Homo sapiens: one gene and its partners. The protein of the gene in region 3 purifies or fractionates together with the protein of the main gene of each other region. This does not show direct contact. Each region holds a gene or a part of one and is shown on either strand. Other genes may lie near its edges.

Region 1 (7,535 bases), on a different chromosome or scaffold from region 3:
AAGTAGATTTGGCATTGCCTAGGGTAGGGGCAGCTGGGGAGGAGGTAGTAGAAAATGAGGAAAGTGCTAATGAATACAGGGTAATTAAAATATTGTAAAACTGACTATACAGTTTAAATTGGAGAATTGTATGATATTAAGGAAAGTCTGAGAAACTGTCACAGCCAAGAGTAATAAAACTGTTATTTTAAAAACAATGTCATGTGTGCCAAGAATACTGATGAAACATCATTTAATCCTATTCAAAGTGAAGATTTTGACAACGTGTGGTTGATATGAAACCTTTAATTTCTCTGAGAAGTCCCGCTGCTTGCTTTAGTAATACCCTTAATGCCTCAGGACATAACATACTCAAAAAAAAACTGTGCATAAAGAAGTTCTAAATGAATCTTGGTATCCTTTCTAGATTAAATGAGCAACATGCACATCACAAGGTCTTCCTTAAGTGTGCCTGAGATGTGAAATAGCATGCAGACTATTCCCACTGATATTTAATAATACATTAACATGCAAAAATGGGTATCATTGTGTACCCTTTTGTACAATGTTTCAGGATTCAGTTATTTCCTCTGAATTACTAGAAAATTACAATGTTTTGGGTTCTCCCATTATTTATTGTCCTAGTGGTATGAGAAATGCTTATAGTAACCTTGCAGAAATACTTCAATTAAGGCTTAGTCTCCCACAGAACAATATATATCACATAGGGAGAATATAACTTTGTAAAATATTTAGAAAGTTTAATCTTTTATCCTACACATTCCAGATGTACATTAGCAGGAAGTATAAGTTTTAAAACAAAACTACTTTGTTCAAGATGAAAGAGATGGATATTTTCCCATGTTAATCAACTCTTATTTCAAGAACTCATTTTAATGTTAATATGCTCCATAGTTGAGGGTTAGCCATAAAATACATTTAGACTTTTATAAAAATTGCACATAAATTTCATAGAGGAATTATTTCATATGGTCAGTAACAGAAGAAAATATGAATTGACTGCAAGAGCACTAGATTTGGAGCTAGACTGAAGTCCCATGAGGTCAGGAGTTCGAGATCAGCCTGGACAACATGGAGAAACCATGTCTCTACTAGAAATACAAAAATTAGCTGGGCATGGTGGCACATGCCTGTAACCCCAGCTACTGGGGAGGATGAAGCAGGAGAATCACTTGAACCCGGGAGGCGAAAGGTTGCAGTGAGCCAAGATTGTGCCCCTCACTCCAGCCTGAGCAACGGAGCAAGACTCTGTCTCAAAAAAATTAACCCTGACATTTTTTCAAATGTTGAAATTATAAGACACAGTTATGAGTTTAATTTCTGGCAGTTTCAAATCAGGCAACCTCCAGCAGGCAAGTCATTCTCTAAGTCTTGGCCACTTATCAGTGAAAGGAAGTAAAATCAGAAAGCTTTTTTAAACATCAATAAATGCCTTTCCTCTATCTTGTAGTTGACTAGTTACTTTCACATCCACTATCTTGTTTAATTATCAAACCTACAGCTGAAGAGAAGGCCTTCCTTCTCATGGGGTCAGAAACAGAATCACAGACTTTGACTTCTCATCCATGGTTCTGATCATAGGCCAACTGGTTTCAGGTATCTAAACTTTAAATTGCCCTAAGACTCATTTTAATTGACCACTAAACATTCAGAGATTTTCAGATTTCCTTTTTCCACTGATAATAATCTTGAATTTTTTTTTTTTTTTGAGACGGAGTCTTGCTCTGCTGCCCAGGCTGGAGATGCAGTGCCGTGATCTCAGCTCACTGCAAGCTCTGCCTCCCGGGTTCACGCCATTCTCCTGCCTCAGTCTCCTGAGTAGCTGGGACTACAGGCACCCACCACCACGCCTGGCTAATTATTTGTATTTTTTAGTAGAGACGGGGTTTCACCATGTTAGCCAGGATGGTCTCAATATCCTGACCTCGTGATCCGCCTGCCTCGGCCTCCCAAAGTGCTGGGATTACAGGCGTGAGCCACTGCACCTGGCCAATAATCTTGAATTTAATTTGGCTATTTGAGGATAAGAAAGGGATCAAGCAAATTGCTATTATTGTTGTTTTTCCAAAATCAACTCACTTCCATGACAACTTCTGATGAAAAACATTGGGTTTTGGTGAGCTGTGTTTCACAGATGGCACCTCACTGACCTGATTAACACTTAAAATTCCAATAACTAGGTCACTCTTAGAAACATTTCCTTGACCAAAAGGATGTCCCAATGATCTTAAACCTGGGGAGAGGGGAAGGAAAAGGGAGACCGCCAGGAAAGAATTCAGAGTGCTCTCCAGGAAGAGACAGCAGGAGTCTTTGAGAGGTTTTGGTTTATTTACAAAGATTATAAATACTAACTTGATATCAACCTAGAGATTCTACTTGTCTAAACCTTTCCCCCTCTTTTATTCATTCCAAGCAGCCCTTGGTCCAAGGTGTAATTAACAAGACCGATCCTTCCACACACATTTACCAGTGTCTTAAATTCAAATCCAAATTCTATTTTGGCAGTACTGCTAAAATCTCTTATTTCTTAGTTCTCAAAAAAATTGAAGGAGCTTTTGTCATTTTTTTAATATAAACATCTTCTTTCTTGAAACTGGATCTATAAACAATTTAATGTATTGTGTTCCTCAATAATAGAGTAAATCTGATTTCTGCTAATATTTTGGGTCAGTGACACCCCAAAACCTTTTGCTTTTTATCATGAAGAAGCCCCTCAGACACCTTCTACCTTACTAATGTCTCCATCCAATTTACTATCAAGAAAAGACAGTTTCTCCTTTTTTTTTGTGGTCAGCTTGGATCTTTTGAAGGAGGCATGTCTGTGTGCAGTGAGTTATCACCCAGATGTTCTTGTAGGTATTTTTTTTTTTTTTTGAGGCAGGGTTTCACTTTGTCACCCAGGCTAAAGTGCAGTGGCACAATCTCAGGTCACTGCAGCCTCAATCTCCTGGGCTCAAAATGATCCTCCCACCTCAGCCTAAGTAACTGGGACTACAGGCACGCGCCACCATGCCCAGATAATTTTTTTGTAGAGACGATGTTTTGCCATGTTGCCCAGGCTGGTGTTGAACTCTTGAGCTCAAGCGATCCACCTGCCTCAGCCTCCCAAAGTGCTGGGATTATAGGCGTGAGCCACCATGCCCAGCCAGTCTCGTAGTTTTATAGCTGTGAATTGCTCACAAAAGTCAATCATAAAATTTAGTTTATCGTAAAGTCTGAAGTCCCTTCACCACTGGACTTTATGAACAAAGCTATGTCTAACTCTGCTAGGAAATATTTTCTGATGAAACAAGTGTTTTAAGTAAGAAAAAACTCTCCCAATCATCTAACTCCTCACCCTTTCTGTGCCCACAATATTACTATAATAAAAAGCAACGTGCCTTTACAGAAGCCATGCTACATATGTCTCACCAAAAACGGCACATAGGCACTTTCAGACACAGTGCTAAAAAGAAATCAGATGATCAAAGTTGAACAGCCTCACATCTCATGTGACCTTACATGTCAGCAAAGTTTCCAGCAATCAAAATTGTATAACCATTTTATAACCAATAAACCCGTATGCAGCACAAATGTCTCTTTCTCCCCGACGTTCATCATCAGCCAGAGTAAAATGTTAATTCGGAACTGGATGAAGTGACAAGCTTTTGAATGTTGAGAGAATGAGGGCCAGAGGTGGCCTCAGCCTCAACACTTTGGGAGGCTGAGGCGGGCGAGTCACTTGAGGTCAGGAGTTGGCGACCAGCCTGGCCAACATGGTGAAACCCCGACTCTACTAAAAATACAAAAATTAGCCCGGTGAAGCCAGAAGCTGCGGCCCTGCCTTTCATATCCTGGGAACACAGAACCACTCAGGGGAAGGTAAAGCAGAACCAGGAAATGGAAAGAGAGCTCAGGCAGCAAGGGAGGGAAGCACGCTCTCAGCTGAGTTCCATTTTGAGACTCCCAGGAGAGTAAGTTCTCTATGTAATTAGGTTCATCAAGAGGAGGGAGAGGAGCACATTTTCTCACAGGTCAAAGCTGGGGCCTATGGGGTGGGGGGGGCCTTTAAATTATTTGTCTTTGACCTGGGGCCTTTCCTGAGGTATCCACACCCACCTCCAATTAGTCCACAGGGACTTCACAACTCCCCAATCTTAAAAATTGGGGGAGAATGTGTTCACACCTGGATTCTTCCTGGGGGTTTATGGCCATAGTTCAAAGGCCTAAGATTAGAGTCATGATCCATAGATATTCCAGGAGCTTCCAGCAGTGGATCCTGACACCCCAGGGAAAGAAATCCTTATACCTGGTCACTCCAGAGTTCTTAGGCTCCTACACAAGGTGAGCTTCCCAGTTTCCCATTGCCAACTCCACAGACACGCCCTGGATGACCACCAACTCACTCCCCAATCACAGCTCCACCCCAAAAGAGGGTGGGAGCAGATCAGAAGTGGCTTTAATGGTGTACCCAGAGAAAAAGCTGCTGTCCCTTTCTCTAGGAATGCTTCAAGAGAAAAGGAGATAAAGACTAAGTGGAATGAAAAAAAAAAAAAACCGGAACGATTTACCACTGTTGTTTTGGTTTTTTTAAATGTGGCTCAAAGAATGTTGGTGGTTCCACCAGCTGAAACCTGTGGCTATTCTAAGCATCTGTTAGAGTTACCTCAGAAAGAGCTTTGCATTTTTGTTAAGATATTTGATTAAGTTATTTGAGCGCTCAGTGTATAAAGTCAGATAGGCCTGGGGTCAAATCTCAGCTCAGCCACTTGTAAACTATATGACCTCAGATAAATGCTTTTATCTATCTCTCTAAGCCTCAATTTTCTCATCTAGAAAATGAGGGTAGGTCAGGTGCAGTGGTTCATGCCTGTAATCTCAGGGCTTCGGGAAGCTGAGGTGGGAGGATTGCTTGAGGCTAAAAGTTTGAGATCAGCCTAGACAACATAGCAAGACCTTATCACTATAAAAAAATTTTTTTTAATAAGCCGGGCACGTTGGTCCACACCTGGGAGGCTGAGGCGGGAGGACTGCTTGAGCCCAGGAGTTCAAGGTTACAGTGAGTTATGACTGTGCCATTCCACTCCAGATTGGGTGACAGACTGAAACCCTGTTTTTAAAAAATAAAAATTAAAAATAAATGAGTAATTGTTGCACCTATCTCACAGGATGGTTTATAAAGATGAAATGATATATTACTTGTATTTAGTATAGTGCCTGGTTCATGGAAGATATTCTGTAATACTAGTTACTAATATTACTATTATTATTTTAAGAAAGATATTTGTCATTTTACAAAGGGCCATGGTAAATTCTAGGATTTAATATTTGGACATTTAAGTGTATGAGACATTAACTTCAACATACTACCTGATTTTGCATCTGCCTAATCAATTTTCACTAACGTCATCATGAAAAACATATATATATAAAAAATATAGGCCGGGCGCGGTGGCTCATGCTTGTAATCCCAGCACTTTGGGAGGCCAAGGCGGGCGGATCACGAGGTCAGGAGATCGAGACCATCCTGGCTAACACAGTGAAACCCCGTCTCTACTAAAAATAAAAAAAAAATTAGCCGGGCGTGGTGGCGGGTGCCTGTAGTCCCAGCTACTCGGGAGGCTGAGGCAGGAGAATGGCGTGAACCCGGGAGGCGGAGCTTGCAGTGAGCCGAGATTGCGCCACTGCACTCCCGCCTGGGCCACAGAGCGAGACTCCGTCTCAAAAAAAAAAAAAAAAAAAAAAAAATATATATATATATATATATATATATATATATATATATATGAAACCAGGCCAACCCTTCCCTTCCCCACTGCTAGCCATTTCTCAAGCTCATTTGTTCTGTCTCTCCTCTCAACTGCTCTCTCTCTCCTTGACATTTTTAATGGACCATCGTTGCCTGTGGAAATATGAAGATGGTGGTCAACCACAGTGTGCAAGTCAATGGCAAGGATGTGGCATCCAACAGCTCCCTCATCGCTGTGTGCAGCTCAATGGAAAGGCTGTGTTTTGATTTGCAAAATGGCTATGATTTGCAAAATGCAACATCTGTTCCAAGTAAACAAATATTCCAAACCACCTCTTGAACTGGAAGTTTGGATTCAGCAGCACTGCTTTCTGTCTTGTTTTTCCAGGTAGAATCTGATCACAATTGTCTCTCTCTCAGCCTTACCTCACCCCCATGTTCTTGGGTCATAAACACCACCCTTTGGTGCCACCCTCCTGGCCTACCCTCACTGCACCTGGCCTACCCTCTCCAAAGCCATTGCTCACCACCTCCTGGTAGTGTACAATATATCTAGGAAATAGACTCTCAGTCCCAAGGACTTTGGGCCAACCCATTTGTGTCTGCCTCTGACAAGCTAAGCTACCATGACCTTTCCAGACTTCAACTCCCCAGTGTGAAGATTCCTAGGACCCCAGCCTCACTCCCTCCTCACTGTGTACACTCAACCTTGAACTGGCCAGCAGCCTTGTGTTTCACCTCTTCCGATGACACACACATTCTCTCATCGACCACCAAATTTCCCCCTTAGATTGGTTTCTGAGGGCTTTCAGTCCACAGAACATCTTGAACTGGAGTGTCTTGCTACCAACTCAAATTAATCTTGGGAGGCTGAGCATGGTGGCTCAGGCCTGTAATCCTAACACATTGGGAGGCTGAGGCAGGCCAAAGAATTCAAGACCAGCCTGGGAAAAATAGTGAGACCCCATCTCTAAACACAAAAAAATACAAAATTAGCCACGCATGGTGGCACGTGCCTGTGGCCACAGCTACTTGGGAGGCTGAGGTGGGAAGGATCACTTGAGCCCGGGGAGGTCAAGGCTGCAGTGAGCAGTGATCGTGCCACTGCACTCCAGCCTGGGTGACAGAGTGGGACCCTGTCTCAAAAAATAAATAAATAAATAAAAATAATCGTGGGGCCAACAACCTCAAAAAGTAATAGTTAATGAAAAGAGCTTGGGTCTAGTAATGAGGAAATTTGAACAGAGCTTCTGGCTATCCCACTAACTAGCTTAGTTAAGAATATCTGGCCGGGCGCGGTGGCTCACGCCTGTAATCCCAGCACTTTGGGAGGCCGAGGCGGGTGGATCATGAGGTCAGGAGATCGAGACCATCCTGGCTAACAAGGTGAAACCCCGTCTCTACTAAAAATACAAAAAATTAGCCGGGCGCGGTGGCGGGCGCCTGTAGTCCCAGCTACTCGGGAGGCTGAGGCAGGAGAATGGCGTGAACCTGGGAAGCGGAGCTTGCAGTGAGCCGAGATTGCGCCACTGCACTCCAGCCTGGGCGACAGAGCGAGACTCCATCTCAAAAAAAAAAAAAAAAAAAAAAAAGAATATCTGAGTCCCTCCTCTATACAATTAGGGGATAGTCTGGATAAAGCGCTACCATATAGCTCTAAGATCCTAAATGCCCACCCTCCCCATGGCAAAATGCACTTTTTATTTATTTATTTATTTATTTATTTATTTATTTATTCATTCATTCATGTAATAACTATTGAGTGTCTGATACTGCAAAGCAATGTGCCAGGTATTGTGAAGGGTTA
Region 2 (7,535 bases), on a different chromosome or scaffold from region 3:
GGGGAACTAGCTATGTCTACTGTCTAATAGGGCATTGATGTGTTGTTATTTAATAAATACCCTTGGGCTGGGCGCGGTGCCTCACGCATGTAATCCGCCAGCACTTTGGGAGGCCAAGACAGGCAGATCACGAGGTCAGGAGATCGAGACCATCCTGGCTAACATGGTGAAACCCCGTCTCTACTAAAAATACAAAAAATTAGCTGGGCGTGGTGATGGGTGCCTGTAGTCCCAGCTACTCGGGAGGCTGAGGCAGGAGAATGGCGTGAACCCGGGAGGCGGAGCTTGCAGTGAGCAGAGATCCCGCCACTGCACTCCAGCCTGGGCAACCAAGCGAGACTCCATCTCAATAAATAAATAAATAAATACCCTTAATGACAGGCATCATGTTGGAGAAAAAGATTACAATAGGTAAAATTCCACAGAGTACAAATTCAACTGAGAATGGTCCACAGTTCGGGAACAGAAGCAGTAACCACAAACTGGAAATCATTTTACCTATTCTTCTACCTTATAATAATGAGAACATTCTCCCTAGTGTTTTATATCTTATAAAAGCACTTTAACATAATCTTATTTAAATATAATTAAGATTCTTCTGAATCATGAAGGTTTAAAAAAATTTTTCAATTTACTCAAGTTCATCAAATAAAGAGGTCTTCTTGTTTTATTTATTTAAATTAAACTAGCCTGGAAACAGAAACAAACAATTGAAAATTCTCTACCGGAAACTGTCTCCCATTCACAACTGTATCACTTGCTCCTATTTACTGCCTCTAAATAACGCTACCTAGTTTCATTCAATTGAGGATTTGAACAAGGAAAGAGCTGCAACTGTTGTACTACTTCCTGTTGCAGAATTAACCAGTCATTTCCAATCTTCTTCCATTTTAGGATATTTCCCTTCCAAAGTGCTGTCCAAAGAGAGAGCAACTTCTGTTCCACTATTCCTAGACAATTTTCCTAAATCACTTAAACCAATTTTCCTTCATTTACTTAGTTTGCATTCTTCAAAAGCCCATTCTATTTCCTGTACCCCACTCCTCCTTCATGCCCTTACGTACTGTTTTGTTGGGTAAAAATACTCTTATCTTTCTGTAAAGATCAATTATCTAGTCTTAAATAGTTCTTGTGGTTTTTCAAAGGTGCCCTTCATTTGAAGAACCCTTTTGTGCTGCCCCCAAGTCTCGCAGAGATGAAAAAGGCTGTTGTCCTTCTCCTCATTCTGTGTACACCTCCATCTCCCTGTCACCCAAATAAGTGTCAGTTTTTATTAGTCTATAATAAATAACTTCTTATCAGCATCAAATTTCTATTATCACCATTCCTAGTCTCTTGCAGCTTTTTCCTCCATCCTGCCCTCTTCCTTGAAAGTTTGAAATTATTTTAACTAAAAACTATCTTTGACTATTGTTATTTCCCAAACACAAAACAGTTGTTCAAGACTAAACAGCACTGAATCCATGCCCCAGATAGATAGATAGATAGATAGATAGATAGATAGATATACAACTGTTGGTCTTGGGGAAAAAGTCTTAGGAATTAAAAACAAATCACTTTTCTTAACCTTGGGCATTAACAAATAACTGAATTCCAGCTTTAAAAAATTTAAAATATCTCTCTCTACACACACACAGTTCAAGAGAACTAATGCCATATGCTTCAGTGTTTTATCAAACCAACATTCTGTGGGACAGTTTGTTCAGTCTTTGGCTGACAGCACAGCCAGAATTATTCTTCAAGGCTGTTTTTTTTTTTTTTTTTTTTTGAGATGGAGCCTTGCCCTGTCGCCCAGGCTGGAGTGCAGTGGCACGATCTCGGCTCACTGCAGCCTCTGCCCCCCAGGTTCCAGCAATTCTCCTGCCTCAGCCTCCCGAGTAGACTAGCTGGGATTACAGGCGCACGCCACCACTCCTGGCTAATTTTTGTATTTTTAGTAGAAACTTGGTGTCACCATGTTGACCAGGCTGGTATCGAACTCCTGACCTCAGGCGATCCACCCGCCTTGGCCTCCCAAAGTGCTGGGATTACAGGAGTGAGCCACCGCGCCCGGCTAAGGCTGTTAATACCACTTTTTGTATCAGTAAGATCATGGCTGGCTGTCACAAGACTGCTAAGAAACCACAGCCCTTTGGGCAAAGCACAGCCTGTTGGCCTGCCGAGGTCACAGAAACCTCACAGCATAGCACACTGCTGCCTCCTCTGGCTGTTAGAGCAGGACATACCTCTTCGTAATTTTTCGCCTCCACTCCATGCTTCATGTCTAGGATCACGAGTTGGTCAGGTATCCGCCCTGTTCCTGAGAAAGAAATCAAAGGAATCATTGTGTGAAATACTTAAAATTCTGGGAAATTACCCACCCACCCGCCCGCCCTCCCTCTACAGAACCCCTACCCTCTCAATAGAGGGAAACAGCCACAACTCCTCCCCCTGCTCAGTTGCAGAAAATTCCTGGCTCTGGCTAAAATCACAAACATTCCAGACAAAGCCTCTATCTGTGTGGGGTGCCGGAAAGCAACAAGAACATGCTGCTGGCAAACATCTCTGAGCAGGCAAGGACACAAGATACTGCAACTGGTACTACAGAGGAACAGAACAGAAGGGAAACCACACAGGCTTATTGAATTGGGAAATAAAACTCAAAAATCAAAACAGTGTGAAATTGAGTGGCATATAAATCAAGAGATAGTAGGCAACAACTTCGGCTGAAAATGTGTATTTCCACATCTGAAAAGGTTGCCCTGTCAAATTTTGAGGGAAGGCCATGATGAATTAGGATTATTGGATATGTGCTAAGCTTGGATTTACTTAATATAAATCTGAGTACTGAAAAGAACATAAGTTTTATCTAATATTCCACTTTAATTCAAACATTTTGATCAATGTATGGCCTAGTTCAGTAGGAGTACAATGTCATAGAGCTATTCCCACTAAGCCCTTAAAAGAGTTACAACAGCTCAAGGAAAAAAAAAAAACAACTTTAAGTGTTCAAATCTCAGGGATGCTTCTTATAATAGAGTTCATGTTAGAAGAGTCAATCTGATTCAGCTGGATCAAAGAAGCATTCTAATCTTAAATCATCAAGTAGGAGAAAGGAAAAGACCCAAGGAGCCCCAGAAAACTGTTCAGCCCCAATCCCCTGGAATTCACCTAGTTATAAAATTTACAACTGCCTGCATGAAATTAGAAGTTGTGGGAAACAGTGCCACTGAAGCACTGGGGTTCCTGAAACCATAAGCCACACTGAATGGTACTGTACCCTCTGATGCCTGAGAGACACTGGAAGTTTTCTGAAATGAACTGAAGTCAATTCAATAACTACTCATTGAAAACTCACTAAGTACTAAAACTGTGCTGGAGATTTTAAAGAGATATGCTACGGCTTCGATGTGCCCCTCTCAAAGTTCATGTGTTGGAAACTTAATCCCCAATGCAACAGTGTTGAGAGGTAAAACCTTTAATTTTATTTATTTAATTAAAAAAAATTTTTTGAGACAGGTTCTTACTCTTGTCTTCCAAGCTGGAGTGCAGTGGCACGCACCATCATGGCTCACTGTAGCCTCGAACTCCTGGGCTCAAGCAATCCTCCCACTTCAGTCTTTCAAGTAGCTGGGACTACAGGCGTGAGCCACCACACCCAGGTAATTTTTGTATTTTTTGTAGAGACAGGGTCTCGCTATACTGTCCAGGCTGATCTGGAACTCCTGGGCTCAAGCGATCCTCCTGCCTCAGCCTCCCAAAGTGCTGGGATTATAGGCATGAGCCACTGTGCCTGGCGGAGAAGTAGGACCTTTAAGAATTGACTAGGTCATGGGGCTCTGCCCTCATCAATAGATTTAATGTCATTATCATAGAAGTAGGTTTGTTATAAAAGTGAGTTCAGCCCCTTCTTGCTCTCCTGTGCATTCTCTTGCCATGTGATACCTTCTGCCATGTTATTGTGACACAGCAAAAAGGCCCTCACCAGATGTGGCCCCTTGATCTTGGACTTTCCAGACTCCAGAACCATGAACCAAACAAATTTCTACTGTTTATACCCACTCTGCGATGTTCTGTTATAGCAGCACAAAATGGACTAAGCCAGGATACAATCCCTGCCTTCAAATAATTCAATTGGGATCTAAGACATATACACAAAACAACTATGGTGAAAATGCAAAGCACTGTAAAAGTTTAAGCCAAAGGAACTGGTTCAGACAATTCCAATATGGAGCAAAGGGAAGAGGAGAGAAGATTGTAGTTGTGGACAGACTTCACTAAAAAGGGAACACCTAAAGGCAGGACTTAGGCAAAGTACTCTAGGCAGACGGCAAAGCATGAGCAAAGGCTCAGATATTAAAATCGGAGTATGGCATGCTTGAAAGACAGTAAAGAACTTCTTTTGGGATGGGCACGGTGGCTCATGCCTGTAATCCCAGCACTTTGGGAGGCCAAGGCAGGTGGATCTCTTGAGGTTCGAGTTCGAGACCAGCTTGGCCAACATGATGAAACCCGTCTCTACTAAAAATACACAAATTAGCCAGGCGCAGTGGTGCGTGCCTGTAGTTCCAGCTACTCCGGAGGCTGAGGCATGAGAATCACTTGAACCCGGTAAAGTTGCAGTGAGCCAAGATCGCACCACTGCACTCCAGCCTGGGTGACAGAGCAAGACTCTTGTTTCACACACACACAAAAAAAGGACTTCTTTTGGATAGACTGGAAAGATTAACTCGAAAGCAAGAGAAATATAAATAAGACTGCACAGGGTAAGACTGAGAACAAAGTAAGACAAGTCACATGTGTCTTCTGAGCATGAAAACAACAAGTCTTCAAACAAAACAAAACAAAATGTGGCACCCAGAGTGTTCTGTTCTCCCAAATCCAATGTGTAATCCTGATTACGACATTGTCCATGGAAGATGTACTTCCTCATTGAAAAAGTTGTGAAACTTAAGCAGTTCACAGCCCCACCTGGTCCAAATGATCAGGATATCTTCTTTCTTACAAGGTCTTCCAACTACCTCCCTGATTGTCACAGCACAGTACAGTCATGCACTACATGAAGACAGTTCAGTCGAGGACAGACTGCATATATGAAGGTGGTCCCATAAGATTATTATAATACTGTATTTTTACTATATCTTTTCTATGTTTAGATACACAAATAGCATTGTGTTCTAACTGCCTACAGTATTCAGTACAGTCACATGCTTTACAGCTTTGTAGCCTAGGAGCAGTAGTAGGCTATACCATATAGCCGAGGTGGGTAGTAGGCTATAACATCTAGGTTTGTGTAAGTACACTTAATATTTGCACAACGAAATCACCTAACCACCATTTCTCAGAATGGTCGAGTCCAGACTATACAGTCTCTTGCATAGAACTGTCAGCCTATCCTCTTAGCTGACATCATAGCCCTAAAGAGTCTCCTTTGTAAAAGGACCCTTCATAATTTTTCTCTCTGCATTTGCCTGGCAAACAGACAATCCTTTTTGTTTGTTTTGAGACAGAGTCTCGCTCTGTCACCCAGGCTGCAGTGCAGTGGTACGATCTTGGCTCACTGCAATCTCTGCCTCCTGGGTTCAAACAATTCTCCTGCCTCAGCCTCCCGAGTAGCTGGGATTACAGGCATGTGCCACCACCACATCTGGCTAATTTTTGTATTTTTAGTAGAGATGGGGTTTCGCCATGTTGGCCAGGCTGGTCTCAAACTCCTGGCCTCAGGTGATCCGCCCGCCTCGGCCTCCCAACTGCTGGGATTACAAGCGTGAGTCACTGCGCCCGGCCAGTTTTTTTTGTTGTTGTTGTTGTTTATTTTTTTGAGATGGAGTCTCACTCTGTCACCCAGGCTGGAGTGCAGTGACACAATCTTGCTCACTGCAACCTCCACCTCCTGGGTTTAAGTGATTCTCCTGCCTCAGCCTCCTGAGCAGCTAGGGTTACAGGCACGAGCCACCATGCCCAGCTAATTTTGTATTTTTAGTAGAGACAGGGTTTCACCATGTTGGCCAGGCTGGTCTCAAACTCCTAACCTTCAGTGATCTGCCTGCCTTGGCCTCCCAAAGTGCTGGGATTACAGGCATGAGCCACCATGCCCAGCCTTTTTTTTAAGACTTCACTTTGTTAGAGCAGTTTTAGGTTCACAACAAAACTGAGAGGAAGGCACAAAGATTTCCCATATCCCCCTTCCTCTTACATATGCATAGCCTCCCCCATTATCACCATTTCCCACCAGAGTGGTACATTCATTACAAATGATGAACCTACATGGACACATCACTATCTACCAAAGTCCACAGTTTACATTAGGATTCACTCTTGGTGTACATTCCAAATGTAATGTTCGGACAACCATATAATGACATGTATCCACTATTACAGTATCATACAGAATATTTTTACTGCCCTAAAAATTCTCTCTGTTCCACCTATTCAATCTTTTATTCCATGTAGTCGACCTTTTAAAAGGTGCTCCAAAGACTACAAGGTAACAGGTCTCCAAATCAGAATAAATAAAGAATACAAATGAAACTAGATATTAAGTGCTGACTGTATTAAGGAGCATTAGAGTTGGAGAAGATTCTTAATCCAGAGAAACACTCTTGATTACTCACCCTTGCTCTCAAAACACACTTCAAACATGTCATAATCTTCAGTGGTAAAGGCAAATTTCCCCTTGGTTGCATCCTCTTTGGAGTAGAGAATATGGCCAGCAGAATCTGTGATCTAAAATAAGAAAAGTAGTAAGAATAGGCAGCAAATAACACTCAGGAAGAGAACTTACAGAAACTGGGAAGATAGAGACACTATCTATGAAAGACAATTGATAGTTCTCATTATGATGACTATGTTCCAACCATCCCCAAAGACAAAAACTGGATTAGAAGATTAAATCCAAATACAGCAAATTTCATCCATTCAAATAGCCTAATCACACTGTGGGCTAAAATCTGTTGCTGCTATAGGATGTCTTACCATACCAAAAAGTTAATCTAGCTAATGCTCCAAGTTACATACATTGGATTTATTGGCAAAAACTCACTAGTATCATTCCGCATAGAGGAACATGTCACAAAAATGAAAGTAGACAATTATCAAAAGATTATACAAGAGGGACAAAGATATATAAAAACACATTTATTCTATAAAACAAATTTGATGGGGAAGGGGTGTGGGTGGAGAATAAAATTAGGACACACAATACAAGGACAGCAGGAAGAAAAGCATACATAGAGAAGACAATCCAGGAGATCTATTCCTGCAAATTTCATGTTAATTATGTCAACGGCCAGGTAGAGTGGGAACAAAACACAGGAAACAAAAAAGAAGTTTCTGGCCAGGCATGGTGGCTCACGCCTGTAATCCCAAACTTTGGAACGCCAAGGCAGGAGGATCACTTGAGCTCAAGAGTTCAAGACCTGGCTGGGCGCGGTGGCTCACGCCTGTAATCCCAGCACTTTGGGAGGCCGAGGCGGATGGATCACGAGGTCAAGAGATCAAGACCATCCTGGCCAACCAACATGGAGAAACCTCGTCTCTACTAAAAATACCAAAAT
Region 3 (7,772 bases):
TATCTGTAAAGTGAGATGGTTGTACTAAATGATCTCTAAGGTTTATTTTAGTTTTAACATTGTAGATCTATGCTGTCCAATATGGTAGCAACCAGCTACATGTGGCTATTGAGCCCTTGAATATGGCTAGTCCGAACTGACATGTGCTGTAAGTGTAAAATACACACTGGATTTCAAAACAAAAATGTAAAATATCTCAATAATTTTTTTATATTGGCAACATGTTGAAATAATATTTTGGACATGTTGGGTTAAGTAAAATATATTATTAATATTAATTTCTTTTTAAAAATGTTTTTACTTATTTATTTGGGTAGAGATGAGGTCTCCTTATGTTGCCCTGGCTGGTCTCAAATGCCTAGCCTCAAGCCATCCTTCCACTTTGGCCTCCCAAAGTGCCAGGATTACAGGCGTGAGCCACCACACCCAGCCACTTAATTTTAATTTCATGTGTTTCTTTTTACCTTTATAATAGGACCACTAGGAAACATAAAATTATACATGTGCCGCTATGGACTGAATTGGGACCCCCTCAAATTCCTATGTTGAAGCCCTAACTCCCTATGATGTATTTGGAGATGGGGCCTGTGGGAGATCATTTGGTTTAGATGAGGTTATGAGGTGAGGCACCATGATGGGATTAGAGTTGTTATTGGAAGAGACATCAGCGTGTTCTTTCTCTCTCTCTCTCTCTCTCTCTCTCTCTCTCCTCTCTCTCTCTCTGCCATGTGAGGACACAGTGAGAAGGCAGCCATCTATAAGCCAGAAAGAGGGCCCTCACCAGAAACCGACTATGCTGGTACCCTGATCTTGGACTTCTAGTCTCCAGAACTATGAGAAAATAAATTTCTGTTTAAAGCCACTAAGTCTATGGTATACTGTTCTGGCAGCCCAAACTGACCAAGACATGCGGTTTGTATTATATATTTCTGTTGGACAGCATTGGTCCAGATATCTGGGAACTCCTACATACCAGCCAGCCTTCTGGCACTTGTAACTTTCTGTATTGTGTCTGTGAGAGCACAGGCATGGTCTCCAGGCCAGTGTTTCCTCCCTAGCAGCTGCTCAATAAGCTTCTGGCAATTAAGTCATTTTCTTGGTTGTAAGAATATAAACAGTCTCTGGATAATGTATGTAAAAGAGGACCTCATTAAGAGAATATTGGGTAACAACTGGAATCTGCAGGGCAGAAGAACCAGGCTTGGAGGATATACTCAGGCAGACAGCAATGTCCCAAATCCCACTGCAGACTAGTCTGGGGGTGACTCCACTGCTGCCCCAGAGAACCAGAGCTGGCTGTCCATTGGCAGAGTGGCGTGGGTATGTGCTTCCAGCCTCATTAGTTTCCAGTTCAGAGTTCAGTTGACTGAGTTTGAATCGGGGACTCTAGCTGCAAGAGAGGCTGGGGCTGGGAAGGTGAGCAATTGCTTTTGAGCTTTTTTTTAGTGGAGAGTTGGGTCTTATCATAAGCAGAAGATTTATTCCTTTAACATTGGAAGGGTCTTTAGATGCTGGGCTGCCACATAAGGATGGAACCCTTTCCTTGTGTTGTCTGAGACCTTGAAATTTTGACTGCAACACAGCAGAAGTTCCATCAAGACTCCTCAGCTGGAACTCCTCCAGGCGAGAGGCTCTTCAGATCTCCTTGTTCTTGGGAAGGATGAAGCAGAACAGTTGACATCATACATTCTAATGCTACAATTATAATTTCATGATGTCCTTTGAAAATTCTCGCATGTTATTTTAATGTGGAGACACAGGAGGGCACTCTAACCAACTAGCAATAAAACCTAAATGGTTTCATAGCCTTGGCAGTTAAAAAATAGATGTTGATTTGTTGAACCTGTAAAACACAGGTTTTTCATTTACTTATTTATTTATTTGCAAAGGAGTTTCACTCTTGTTGCCCAGGCTGGAGTGCAATGGTGCGATCTTGGCTCACCACAACCTCCGCCTCCCAGGCTCACGCGATTCTCCTGCCTCAGCCTCCCGAGTAGCTGGGATCATAGGGATGCGCCACCACGCCCAGCTAATTTTTTGTGTATTTTTAGTAGAGATGGAGTTTCTCCATGTTGGTCAGGCTGGTCTCGAACTTCTGACCTCAGGTGATCCGCCCGCCTCGGCCTCCCAAAGTGTTGGGATTACAGGTGTGAGCCACTGCGCCCGGCCGGGTTTTTCTTTTTTTCTAGGCAGGATAACTAACTTTGCAGGACTACCTTCCAACAATACCCTGCAAAATACCCTAGCTTCCGTGGGGGTATCTCACCTATAACAAAGGCTCTCAAGACACACTCTCCACATTATCCAGTTAATGTTCTAGGGACCATGGCTATGAGCAACTCAGAACAGGGAAGGAGTTTTTTTCTTCTGATGTCCAGGCTGGAGTGTAGTGGTGTGATCATGGTACATTGCAGCCCTGAACTCCTGGGCTCAAGGACTCCTTCCGCCTCAGCCTCCCAAGTATTAATAGCTTGCACTACAGGTGTACCACCTTGCCTGGCTAATTTAAAAATTTTTTTTGGTAGAGATGAGTGTCTATGTTGCCAGGGTTAGGGAAGAGGACTTTTGACTACAGCTTACCCCCTGCCTCAGCCACTAGACCAGGTTGCCAAGAGCTCACATTTAAAGGTCAATTGGCCAAATTGAACCTAGAGCAGAGAAGAGAGACCTGGTTGTCTTGAGACTTTCTTCAAATCTGCAGCCTGTCCCCATGACTCAGTTTTCCCATCTGTAAAATGGAGATAACATTAGACCTATGTCTGTATAGTTTCCTCATGAAGAGAGAGACAGAGTGGGAACAACATATCCGGGGGTGATATTTACCATCGCACACAGACCATTGAGTTCTATACTAAAAAACTAAAGCCCGCCTGAGTCTTGTTAATGAATGATAGCACACGGGAGGGACAAAGCGTGCTCTGCTGGCAGCTGGAGTAACAAAAGTAATGAGGCGAGGTCGGAACAGGATCTGCTGGCTCCGGCTCGGTTTCCTCGCACAGGTCTCTCCAGCTGGATCCTCGACGCTAGGGAGGAAGGGGCGCGGGACTGCTGTGGGGGTTTTCCCTCCCCAGGCAGGGGCAGGACCTGTTCCGGGCGACTGCAGGGTTAAGGGTATCGTCTTAAAGAGCCGGATCCTCCCGGCTGGAGCGAGGCTGGATGGCGGGACGCAGCCTCTCAGCCTCTCGTACCCGCCCTGCGTCCGCAGTGGTTGTTGGCGCAGCCGCCCCGTCGGTGTTCCGGGCTCAGTCCCCGCTCCCCAGCGCCAGACGCAGACTCCGGGCCAAGTTCTCCCTCCGCTCGCTGCTTTCTGCCGCAGGACCCGGATCAATAAAGGGAAGGAGAGCCGGGAGGAAATGATGGAGAACAGAGAGAAAGGAGATGCTTGATTTCACTCGCCAAGGAGTGAGTGCTCATCGGCAGACACTGGGCTCTGGCCACGCGTCTTAGACTCCAAATCTCGGCTCACTGGTCCCTTTGAGGAGGTCGCCTGGTGTTCCCGTAGCCCTCCACCCCACCGTAGGAGAGCGCCTGCCACGAGCTCCGCGCCTCGCTAAGTGCTTTGCTACGTGAACTCTTAGTTTTCCCAACATCCCTAAGCCGCCGATACATTATCACCCACGTATTGCGGACGAGAGAACCGCCTCGGAGAAGCTGGCTGGCTCGCTTGGAGTTTTGCAGCTAGTGGCGGAGCGAGCATTCCGAGCAGGTACTGTGCGATCCTCCAGCGCCGGCCGCAGCTCACAGCCCCTTAGCTCCGCCGGGTTATTGTGCGGCCGCGCCTTCTGCACCTGTTGCGGCCCTCGCTAGGCGGGAAGGGAGGGAGAAGAGGAGGACAAAGGGGATGACCAGGTGGCTCTCCCCCGACGGACTCCCGGCCCAGGGAGCGGATAGACCACTCCCAGAGAGAGTGTGGCTTTGAGCCTTGGAGAGGATGCTCTCCTTCTCCAGGGATCGCCTCCCCAGCGGACGCAGAGTTTCAGGGAAATGTCCGCCTCCGCCACTTGGGATGGCAGTGGGGAGAGGAGGATCTGGGTGTCCGGAGGAGGGCAGTGGGAGAAAGCTGGAGCTGCTGGAGTCGCAGCTGCCTGCGGAGCGGGCCCGGGAGGAAGCGGGGCCGAGCGTGCGGCGTCCACGCGGTGAGTGTGCAGCGCTTTCATTCAAACTTTCTCCAGTCTCGGTTCCGGCGTCAGCAAGGTGTGACCAATCAGAGCCCAGAGACGGGAATAAATTATGCAAATCACCATCTGGCGATGGGTCAGATGACTCCCATACTTTTAAAAACTACCTCTATAGGAGCGTGACAGCAGCGAGTCCTTGCCTCCCGGCGGCTCAGGACGAGGGCAGATCTCGTTCTGGGGCAAGCCGTTGACACTCGCTCCCTGCCACCGCCCGGGCTCCGTGCCGCCAAGTTTTCATTTTCCACCTTCTCTGCCTCCAGTCCCCCAGCCCCTGGCCGAGAGAAGGGTCTTACCGGCCGGGATTGCTGGAAACACCAAGAGGTGGTTTTTGTTTTTTAAAACTTCTGTTTCTTGGGAGGGGGTGTGGCGGGGCAGGATGAGCAACTCCGTTCCTCTGCTCTGTTTCTGGAGCCTCTGCTATTGCTTTGCTGCGGGGAGCCCCGTACCTTTTGGTCCAGAGGGACGGCTGGAAGGTAACGTGAATTTGTTTTTATTCCCCCCAGCCACTTCTCTGTGCTGGGTCCCCTCTGTCTTGCTGATTCTTCAAACCCTCCTTGTTCCTATGAAATTCTTCCTTTCCCACTGCGCTGCCCATTCTCTCCTCCAATCCACCTTGGAGTCCACCTGTCTCTCTGCTGGTCTGATGGGGGCATTCCCGGCAAGTCATGCAAAAGGCAAAGGCTGGCAGGGTGCGCTGGCTCTTGCCAGCCCTCCCACCCCCACCTCCTTCCCTTATACGGCTCCCTAAGCCAGTGCTGGTGCTGTCCAGCCAGCCGAGCGGCCTGGCAGCAGCTCTGAAACCTTGTCCTCATGCCTGAACCTGGAGGTTTGAGAGGCAAGAAGGCTGTCAGAGCTGTGTCTCCTGGAGCTGCCTTTTAATCTTGGTGTAGGTGTCTTGAAAGTTCAGGTGGCAGGGTAGCTGGCTTTGGTTTGATTCGTGCTTGCAGGGAGCGTCTGGTGGGTCGCTTGTGCTTAGAAGCTGCCGGGCCTATTCCCCCAGGTTGCCAGCCTTTTCCTCTTCAACACTCTTGTGCTCCCCCGACTCTTCCTCTTCCCACTCCTCCTCCCTTTCCTCCTCCTGGCTTTTAGCTTCTCTTCCTCTTGGGTTCTGTATGGCAGCCTTTGCCAGTGGAGGCAGCTTGCCCTGGGGGAGCCAGAGTCAGTCAGCTCTGGGGGAGTCAGAATCAGAGTGAGAACTAAGTCAGCTGATAAGCAGTGGAGGGCTGGGGAGCCTCTAAACTGAACCCCATCATCTCATCTTCTAGTCTGCTGAGGTTGTGCCAAATGGTCTGTGTGGGCTTGTGTATGTGTGGGAGGGTTACTGTGAATGAATGGAAAGCCTTGCTTTACTCAACATGTTTCCAACTCTGGTGCTAACTAGAAGCATTGCCTAGGGCAGGTCTCATCTCTGGCTCCTCACCTGTAAAATGCTAAAGTTCCTTCTAACTTCTGTGTTCTGGGCCTCTGAGTATGTGTGAGTCATTTCCTTCATTGCAAAAAGTATTTACTGCATACCTACTTAGTGTCAGACACTATTCTGGGAGCAGGGGAGAGAGCAGTGGACAAAATAGATGGCAATCTGTGCCCTTGTGACACTTACATTTCAGTGGTGGGAAGACAGACAGTGCACTGATTAAAGTATCAGTGGTGCTCAGTATTATGGAGAAAAATCAAGCAGAGGAGGAAGGTGGGGCATGTTGGTGGGGGAAGGTGGTGCGATTTTATGATGTGGTCAGGGAAGGCCTTTCTGGAGAAGTTGACCATTGAGCAAAGAGCTGAAGGGGGTGAGAGAAGGAGCCATGAGGACATCTGGGTGAGGAACAATCAGAAAGTCCCAGAGGCTGAAGTGACCCAGGCCAAAAGTAGTAGGAATGTACCTAGAGAACTTTGGGGTCAGAGCAGGTCAGACTCTAAGAGGAAGAGTCTTTGTCCATATGTGGGTTTATCCGCAGATCTGTCTCAGGAATCCAGGAGACTTCTTTTCTCCTAGGTTTCCCCATCTGGCCTCTGCATGAGTGGCTATCTGGGTAGAAGGTGGGGAGTTGTCGAACTCATTATGTCCGTGGTTCAAATTTCTGCTGGTTGGGGCTTTTGTTCATTACTTTCATGACGGTTAACCTGACTTCCGCTCATGTGCATTCAGCAGCATTTTCTGGAACCTTATCCCTCTTACATCTGCTGCATTCTTCCCCCTCTCTCCCTCCTTTCCCCTCCGCCCTCTCCACCACTATATCTCTTTCCTTTTGGTATCTTCTTCCTTTTGCTTCTTAACTCTGAGATAAATTAACTCCAAGATGGTCATTTGGCATCTTTCCCTGCTGGGTGATAGGAGAGTTTGATACTCTCACTTTCTAGCCAGTTATCCAGTGATGCATCCCAGGATGGCTGAAAGAGTGCTGGGTGGGGTCCATTTATGACTTTCTGAAACGGTGTCATGATGACAGCACCTACTTAGTGTTAAGCCACAGTGGCCATCAGTGACATGAGCTGCACTTTGGGAGCAGGGCCGTCTCCTAGGTGGCACTGTGCATGAGCAGTGAAGCTGGAAGGGGGGATTTTTGTTGCTTTTAGGAGTTTCTCCATGGCTTTAGTCATTTACTTAACAAACCAGATGAATGCCTGGCACATGCCATCACTAGAAAGGGCACTGAGGATGCCTGAGTTTCCCTAGATGGGAACACTAGGGGAAGCCTATTTTCCAGCAGGTCAACAGCCTCTTGCCTCCAATTCCAAAATCCACAAACTCTCAAAATTGGAAAATGTGTTTGGTAACTTGTTTGGCAGCAAGACCTGGCCTTACCTGATCTGAACTTATTTGGCAGCAAAAACCTGGCCTGAGATAACAGGAGGCTATTGGTTATCTTTATATTTGCCCTCAAATGTGAGTGGTTATGTATTCTCTGCAGAAATATTAGGATGTTTGATCCAGGGGGAATAGCCCAGGCCCCACTGGCAGCATTATATAATATATGGTGTATGCTCCATGATGCCTTTCTAAAATCTGAAAACTTCTAAATTCTGAAACTCACCTGGTCCCAAGCATTTCAGAAAAAGAACTGAGAACCTGTACTCTAAAAGTAGGAAGGAAGTAGAACTCCTTTTGATAGGAAAGAAGAGGGAAATGCAAGAGAGAGATCTATTTATTTCAGAGTGACAGTAATTAATACTAGTGACTAATTAATACTCTTTAAGTATAAATGAGATGTCCTTTTTTATAAAATGTTCACAGTTTTTCTGGGAGGTGAAAAGGGAACATTCAGCAGATGTAAAAACCGAAACCCAGATGGCTTAAGCAAATTGCTCACGATTGAACTAGAATCAGACCCCAGGTCTCTCACTCCGCAAGTCTGCTAGATGCACCCACGCTCTGTTCTGTCTCCCCAGATAAGCTCCACAAACCCAAAGCTACACAGACTGAGGTCAAACCATCTGTGAGGTTTAACCTCCGCACCTCCAAGGACCCAGAGCATGAAGGATGCTACCTCTCCGTCGGCCACAGCCAGCCCTTAGAAGACTGCAGTTTCAACATGACAGCTAAAACCTTTTTCATCATTCACGGATGGACGGTGAGCCCGGGGAGGGAGCTCTGCGGCT
Region 4 (7,535 bases), on a different chromosome or scaffold from region 3:
TGCTAATTTTCTTTTCTTTTGGGATGGAGTCTCACTCTGTCGCCCAGGCTGGAGTGCAGTGGTGCGATCTCGGCTCACTACAAACTCTGCCTCAGGTTCAAGCGATTCACCTGCCTCAGCCTCCCGAGTAGCTGGGACTACAGGCATGTGCCACCACACCTGGCTAATTTTTTTTTTTTTTTTGTATTTTTAGTAGAGACAGGGTTTCGTCATGTTGGCCAGGCTGGTCTTGAACTCCTGACCTCAGGTGATCTGCCTGTCTTGGCCTCCCAAAGTGCTGGGATTACAGGTGTGAGCCACTACGCCCAGCCCAGTCAGCAGATTTAGTTATTTTTATTTTTATTTATTTATTTATTTATTTATTTGAGACGGAGTCTTACTCTGTCACCCAGGCTGGAGTGCAGTGGCGCTATCTCGGCTCACTGCAAGCTCTGCCCCCCGGGGTTCACGCCATTCTCCTGTCTCAGCCTCCCGAGTAGCTGGGACTACAGGCACCTGCCACCACGCCCGGCTAATTTTTTTTTTTTTTTTTTTGTATTTTTAGTAGAGACAGGGTTTCACTGTGTTAGCCAGGATGGTCTCAATCTCCTGATCTCGTGATCCGCCTGCCTCGGCCTCCCAAAGTGCTGGGACTACAGGCATGAGCCACCGCACCCAGCTATTTTTTTATTCTTTTTGAGATGGAGTCTCGCTCTGTCGCCCAGGCTGGAGTGCAATGGCGCGATCTAGACTCACCGCAACCTCTGCCTCCCAGGTTCAAGCGATTCTCCTGTCTCAGCCTCCTGAGTAGCTGGGATTACAGGCACCCACCACCACACCATGCCCAGCTAATTTTTGTATTTTTAGTAGAGATGGGGTTCCACCATGTTGGCCAGGCTGGTCTTGAACTCCTGACCTCAGGTGATCCACCTGCCTCAGCCTCCCAAAGTGCTGGGATTACAGGCGTGAGCCACCTACCCAGCCCCAGTCAGCAGATTTTGAATCTCACTTGAAGAATGGGCACGAGTCTGTGTGGGGCAGCATCTGTGTTGTCTGCACACACATGTGCTTCCATGTCTGTGGGCAGCCCTGGCCGCTCCTGCATGTGCTTGCCCCTACCTGGGCTCCACACTGAGAATGCGGAACGCTGGGCTAGTCTCTGATAGTCGCTCCCGTTTCACCGGACATTCCTTCTCCTGGGGGCAGAGGTCAGAGGTTAGGGAATACTAGGCCCAAGGGACCTCCAGGTGACCACCACCTGCCCTCCCACCTGCATGAGGTCAGCCCTGCCCTCACCCAGCAACGCATGATGTCCCAGAGGGCAGAGGCAGGGGCATCCGTCTTCACAGCGTTCTTACAGGCGTGGGAGAGTGAGACCCGGAAGTCAGCGTGGAGGAGGGCCGACCTGGGGAACAGCAGGGATTATGAGGGAGATGCCGGACTCCTTGACCCCAAAGCCCAAGCTGACCAGCGTAGGTAAGACTACCTTCGGCAAGGGCTCATGGCTACAGAGTTCATTTCTTTTCTTTTCTTTTTTTTTTTTTTTTTTTTTTTGAGATGGAGTCTCGCTCTGTCGCTCAGGCTGGAGTGCAATGGCGCAATCTTGGCTCACCACAGCCTCCGCCTCCTGGGTTTAAGCGATTCTCCTGCCTCAGCCTCCCGAATAGCTGGGACTATAGGCATGTGCCACCACGCCCAGCTAATTTTTGTATTTTTAGTAGAGACAGGGTTTCACCATGTTGGCCAGGATGGTCTCGATCTCTTAACCTTGTGATCCGCCCGCCTCAGCCTCCCAAAGTGCTGGGATTACAGGAGTGAGCCACCGTGCCTGGCCTTCTTATTTATTATTTTTTTGAGGTGGAGTCTCACTCTGTCGCTCAGGCTGGTGTGCAATGATGCAATCTTGGCTCACTGCAGCCTCTGCCTCTCAGGTTCAACCAATTCTCCTGTCTCAGCCTCCTGAGTAGCTGAGATTACAGGGATGTGCCATGACGCCTGGCTAATATTTTGGTATTTTTAGTAGAGATGGGGTTTCGCCACGTTGACCGGGCTGGTCTCGAACTCCTGGCCTCAAGTGATTCGCCCGCCTCAGCCTCCCAAAGTGCTGGGATTACAGGCATGAGCCACCACACCTGGCCTTTTTCTTTTTCTAATTATTATTATTATATTTTAAATGGAGTCTCGCTCTGTTGCCCAGGTTGATGTGCAGTGGCGCAATCTTGGCTCACCACCGCCTCCTCCTCCTCCCAGGTTCCAGTGATTCTCGTGCCTCAGCCTCCCAAGTAGCTGGGACTACAGGCATGTGCCACCACACCCAGCTAATTTTTGTATTTTTAGTAGAGACAGGGTTTAACCATTTTGACCACGCTGGTCTTGAACTCCTGACCTCAAGTGATCTGCCCACCTCAGCCTCCCAAAGTGCTGGGAATATAGGCATGAGCCAATAAGCCTGGCCTAATTTTTTTTTTTTTTTTTTTTTTTTAAAGAGACAGGGTCTCATTTTGTCACCCAGGCTGGAGTGGCATGATCATAGCTCACTTTAGCATCAAACTCCTGGCCCAAATGATCCTCCCACCTCAGCCTCCTGAGTAGTTAGGACTATAGGCATGTATCACCATGCCAGGCTAATGGGTGTGTGTGTGTGTGTGTGTGTGTATACATACGTATGTATGTGTGTGTATATGTATGTGTGTGTACATATATATTTATTTATTTATTTGTTAGAGATAGGGTCTTACTACGTTGCCCAGGTTGGCCTCAAGTGATCTTCCTGCCTCAGCCTCCCAAGGTACTGGGATTACAGGAATGAGACAGTGCACCGGGTTCTCCCCACCCCCTCGCAAGTTCTATGCATGAGAATCCCTGGACTTGCCCCAGGCCACCCTGTGGTCTGGGACAGGCTCCTCCCGACCCCAGGGGCTCTTACCGCAACTGCAGGAGGCTTGGTGTGTTGCAGTGGATGGTGCTGCTCAGCTGGTCCAGGGTGTAGTACAGAGGCACGTCCGGGAGCTCCTGCGATGGGGGACAGGATGGGCATGAGTGGAGATGGACGGGCACAGGTGGAGCCCCCTTCCCCGTCACAGCCCGGCTCTCACCTCAGTGATGACGCTCAGGACCCCTCGGATCCGCTCCGAGGTGTGGAAGCGGCCGGGGTTAGCGCTCACAGCCTCCAGGACACGGCCCACAAAATCCAGGTCATGGATGGGCTCTGCCCACATGGGGCCACCAAGCTGGGGGCGCACCGGGGACAGGTGAGCAGGGACTATGACCTTCAAGACCCTCTTGCTCCTTTGCCTCCCCTGGCCTAGCCCTACCTGGTGTCGTTGCCCACAGTGTTCACACTCGGGGGTCACAGGGGGACCACAGGCTGCAGAGAACTTGGCCCTAAACAGAGAGGGGTGGTTGGTGGGGAGGGAGGAAAACCCTGGGACTCCCCTTCTTCTCCTTCCTCCCTGCTCACCGGCCGCTGGGGACTCCTGACGCTTTGCCGAGACGCTGAAGGTGGAAGGCCCCGCAGCCCACACACTGGAACACCAGCGCCTGCTTGCTGTGGGGGGTACCAGTGGCCACGAGTTCCCAGCGTGACCACGACACCCCAACTCCTCCCTTAGACTGGCTCTGTCCCTTAAGAAGCCCCAGATCCCCCAGGGCAAGGTCCTGTCTCCTCTCTCAATCCACCACCGCTCTCTGCCCCCGGGCTGACCTGGCTGAGGCCTTGACCTTGGCCTGGCCGGTGAAGACACGGACAAAAACACGCACGTAGAAGTCAGCGCTGATGCTGAGCAGCGGCACCACGAAGCGCTGGTAGCAGTTGGCGCGGAGGTCCAGGCTGTGCAGGACGATTCTCAGGGCCTGGGGGTGGGGGGTGGGTGTCAGCCTCCCCTCCACTATCCACCCACCCCACCAGGAGCCCTATGTGGTACTCACAAGTACAGGCTCAGGGCCAGCTCCCTGGGATCCAAGCCCACCCCTGAAAGTCCTGGCTGTGGGACCCTCAACAAGTGAGTATCCCCTCTCTGTGCCTCAGTTTCTTCATCTGCAAAATCACAACAGTCCCTGTCTGTGGCACTGCTGGGGGCACTAAACGAGTGAGGAAAGCATAGATCCAACCTATTCTGACCAGCATTATCGGTGTGCCATGTGGCATGTACTGAGGACCCACGTTCCAGCCCCCAAGGGCTCTGTGGGCAGGAAGTGGGGATACTAGGTGCTGTAGAACTGCTGGGGCCTGGGCCGGGCGTGGTGGCTCATGCCTGTAATCCCAGCACTTTGGGAGGCTGGTCAGGAGTTTGAGACCAGCCTGGCTAACATGATGAAATCCCCGTCTCTACTAAAAATACAAAAAATTAGCTGGGTGTGGTGGCGGGCGCCTGTAATCCCAGCTACTAGGGAGGCCGAGGCAGGAGAATCACTTGAACCTGGGAGGCGAAGGTTGCAGTTAGCTGAGATCTCACCACTGCACTCCAGCCTGGGCAACAAGAGTGAAACTCCATCTCAAAAAAGAAAAAAAAGCAAAACGGCTAGGGCTTTCCTGCTAGTGTGAGACTCTGATATGGGAAAGGAGACAGCATTTCCCGGGCTGACTTCATGACAGGACCCTTTAGGAACAAGGGCAAGAGCCCTCTGTGGACCACGCTGGAGTGCAGTGGCACTATCAAAGCTCACAATAACTTTGAACTCCTAGGCTCAAGTGATCCTCCTGCCTCAGCCTCCAGAGTAGCTGGGACCACAGGCATCCACCACCACACCTAGGTAATTTTTAGGGTTTTTTTGTAGAGATGGGGTCCTCGCTATGTTGCCCAGGTTCCTGACCTCAAGTGATCCTCCCACCTTGGCCTCCGAAAGTGCTAGGATTACAGGCATGAGCCGCTGCACTTCGCCACTCAGCCTTCTTGAATCCTGATCAGACACTCAATAGGGTCAGACCATTTTTTTTTTTTTTTTTTGAGACAGAGTTTTGCTCTTGTTGCCCAGGCTGGAGTGCAATGGTGCCATCTCGGCTCACCGCAACCTCCACCTCCCGGGTTCAAGTGATTCTCCTGCCTCAGCCTCCCGAATAGCTGGGATTACAAGCACCCACCACCACGCCCAGCTAATTTTTTTTTTTTTTTTTTTGTATTTTTAGTAGAGACGGGGTTTCACCATGTTGGCCAGGGTGCTCTTGAACACCTGACCTCTTGAACACCGCCCACCTCGGCCTCCCAGAGTGCTGGGATTACAGGCGTGAGCCACCGCGCCCGGCCTATTTTTTTTTCTTTTTTTTGAGACAGAGTCTTGCTCTGTCGCCCAGGCTGGAGTGCAGTGGCACAGTCTCAGCTCACTGCAAGCTCCACCTCCTGGGTTCACGCCATTCTCCTGCCTCCGCCTCCCGAACAGCTGGGACTACAGGTGCCCGCTACCATGCCTGGCTAAGTTTTTGTATGTTTAGTGGAGATCAGATTTCACCATGTTAGCCAGGATGGTCTCAATCTCCTGACCTCATGATCCGCCCACCTCGACTTCCCAAAGTGCTGGGATTACAGGCGTGAGCTACCACGCCCGGCCTATTTTTTTTCTTTTTGAGATGGGGTCTCCCTCCCAGGCTGGCGTGCAGCGGAGTGATCTTGGCTCACTGCAACCTCGCCTCCTGGGTTCAAGTGATTCTCCTGCCTCAGCCTCCTGAGTAGCCGGGATTACAGGTATCTGCCACCATGCCTGGCTAATTTTTGTATTTTTAGTAGAGATGGGGTTTTACCATGTTGGCCAGCTGGTCTCAAAGTCCTGACCTCAGGTGATCCACCTGCCTAGGCCTCCCAAAGTGCTGGGATTACAGGTGTGAGCCACTGCGCCCGGCCTTCAGACCATCATTGTGCCCATTTTACAGATGCAAAAAAACCCGAGGACCAGAAAGGTGAAGTCACTTGCCCAGAGCTACCAGCAAAGCTAGGATTTAAACCCAGTCCTGGAAAAACGACCTTTAAAAAAAAAATTTTTTTTTGAAAAGTTGTTTTAATACAGAAAACTAAAATAATGTGGCCATGCACTCCTGTCCTGGCCAAAGCCACTGTCCCCAAATGACCATGATTATCAGCCATGCTCTTAGGAACTATGTGGGTTGAAGACACGCCTGTCGTTAACAGCCTGGGATGCATCTGGCCATCAGCCTGGAGGAAGCTGAGCAGGTCTGAGGAGGGGGAAAGTGTATTGGGAAGGGACTCAGACAACCACCTGTCCCCCGGTCTCCCTGGCTGGCTGGCAGAGGGCCCCTCACCATCTCGTGGCAGGCCCGGCTCTTGAGGGCCATGGCCCCGTACTTGCTGTAGCACGTCTCCCCGCTGTTCCCCGCCAACACCGCCATGTCTGTGCAGGTCACACACAGCAACCCTGCAGAGAGGGGCTGGGCAGTGAGAACCCTCCAACACCCCAAGCCCTGCTCCCACCCCAGTGCCATCCCCACCTCACCTCCTTCACTCACAGCCTGCACAGCTGCATCCAGGAAGGTGGCTGGGCTGCCATAGGGGTCCAGATCGATGACGTCAAACCTCTCCGACACCCTCTGGTGCTGGTACATCAGCATCCTGGGTGCAAAGAGGGCCAGGTCCTCAGCCTCCCACGCCAGGTACCTTCTCTGTCCCCTACACATATTAACTCGTACAGCACAGTGGTTTGGGTCTGAACTCCGGGGCCAGATTCCCAAGTTCAAGTCCTGGCTCAGTCATTTATTTATTTATTTATTTTATTTTTGAGTCGGAGTCTTGCTCTGTCAGCCAGCTGGAGTGCAGTGTTGTGATCTCGGCTCCCTGCAACCTCCGCTTCCCCAGTTCAAGCAATTCTCGCGCCTCAGCCTCCCGAGTAGAGTAGCTGGGACTACAGACATGTGCCACCACGCCCAGCTAATTTTTGTATTTTTAGTAGAGATGGGGTTTCAACATGTTGGCCAGGCTGGTCTCAAACTCCTGACCTCAAGTGATCCATCCACCTCGGCCTCCCAAAGTGCTGAGATTACAAGTGTGAGCCACTGCACTGGCCTTGGTCATTTATTAAACTGCACAATTTTCCTACTTAGGAAAAGCACCATGTGGAACTCAGTCCACACATCTAAAACAACAACAATACTGATATAAGACGTATCTGCCTGACACCATTTCAAGCAGTTTATAGATGTATTAACACATTTTTTTTTTCCTTTCTTTGGAGACAGAGTCTCGCTGTGTCACCCAGGCTGGAGTGCAGTGGTGGGTTCTCGGCGCACTGCAACTTCCACCTCCTGGGTTCAAGCGATTCTCCTGCCTCAGCTTCCCAAGTAGCTGGGATTACAGGCACGTGCCACCATGCCTGGCTAATTTTTATATTTTTAGTAGAGACGAGGTTTTACCATGTTGGCCAGGCTGGTCTCGAGCTCCTGACCTCAAGTGATCCGCCCACCTCGGCCTTCCAAAGTGCTGGGATTACAGGGGTGAGCCACTGCGTCTGACCTCATTTTAAAATTTTTGTAGAGACGGGTTTCACTGTGTTGCCTAGGCTGGTCTTGAAATCCTGGCCTCAAGCGATCCTCCTGCCTTGGCCTCTCAAAATGC

What was found.
Region 1: the proteins of LIPG (region 3) and PLS1 purify together in Homo sapiens (affinity purification with mass spectrometry; 2 studies listed by BioGRID and IntAct, with this or other methods). This does not show direct contact.
Region 2: the proteins of LIPG (region 3) and TMED10 purify together in Homo sapiens (affinity purification with mass spectrometry; 2 studies listed by BioGRID and IntAct, with this or other methods). This does not show direct contact.
Region 4: the proteins of LIPG (region 3) and TRMT1 purify together in Homo sapiens (affinity purification with mass spectrometry; 2 studies listed by BioGRID and IntAct, with this or other methods). This does not show direct contact.

Annotation. Positions count from the first base shown.
Region 1 is NC_000003.12:142,599,109-142,606,643, reverse strand, and holds part of PLS1 (plastin-1), read right to left. Parts: intron 6,117-7,535; exon of another isoform or gene 5,898-6,116; intron 1-5,897. UniProt on the Homo sapiens protein: Actin-bundling protein. In the inner ear, it is required for stereocilia formation. Mediates liquid packing of actin filaments that is necessary for stereocilia to grow to their proper dimensions.
Region 2 is NC_000014.9:75,145,439-75,152,973, forward strand, and holds part of TMED10 (transmembrane emp24 domain-containing protein 10 precursor), read right to left. Parts: intron 6,706-7,535; coding exon 6,594-6,705; intron 2,300-6,593; coding exon 2,226-2,299; intron 1-2,225. UniProt on the Homo sapiens protein: Cargo receptor involved in protein vesicular trafficking and quality control in the endoplasmic reticulum (ER) and Golgi.
Region 3 is NC_000018.10:49,557,755-49,565,526, forward strand, and holds the start of LIPG (endothelial lipase isoform 1 precursor), read left to right. Parts: upstream 1-4,302; 5' UTR 4,303-4,554; coding exon 4,555-4,651; intron 4,652-7,562; coding exon 7,563-7,744; intron 7,745-7,772. UniProt on the Homo sapiens protein: Exerts both phospholipase and triglyceride lipase activities. More active as a phospholipase than a triglyceride lipase.
Region 4 is NC_000019.10:13,106,476-13,114,010, forward strand, and holds part of TRMT1 (tRNA (guanine(26)-N(2))-dimethyltransferase), read right to left. Parts: intron 6,537-7,535; coding exon 6,421-6,536; intron 6,343-6,420; coding exon 6,230-6,342; intron 3,832-6,229; coding exon 3,683-3,831; intron 3,527-3,682; coding exon 3,440-3,526; intron 3,364-3,439; coding exon 3,294-3,363; intron 3,210-3,293; coding exon 3,075-3,209; intron 2,992-3,074; coding exon 2,906-2,991; intron 1,385-2,905; coding exon 1,276-1,384; intron 1,176-1,275; coding exon 1,099-1,175; intron 1-1,098. UniProt on the Homo sapiens protein: Dimethylates a single guanine residue at position 26 of most nuclear- and mitochondrial-encoded tRNAs using S-adenosyl-L-methionine as donor of the methyl groups. tRNA guanine(26)-dimethylation is required for redox homeostasis and ensure proper cellular proliferation and oxidative stress survival.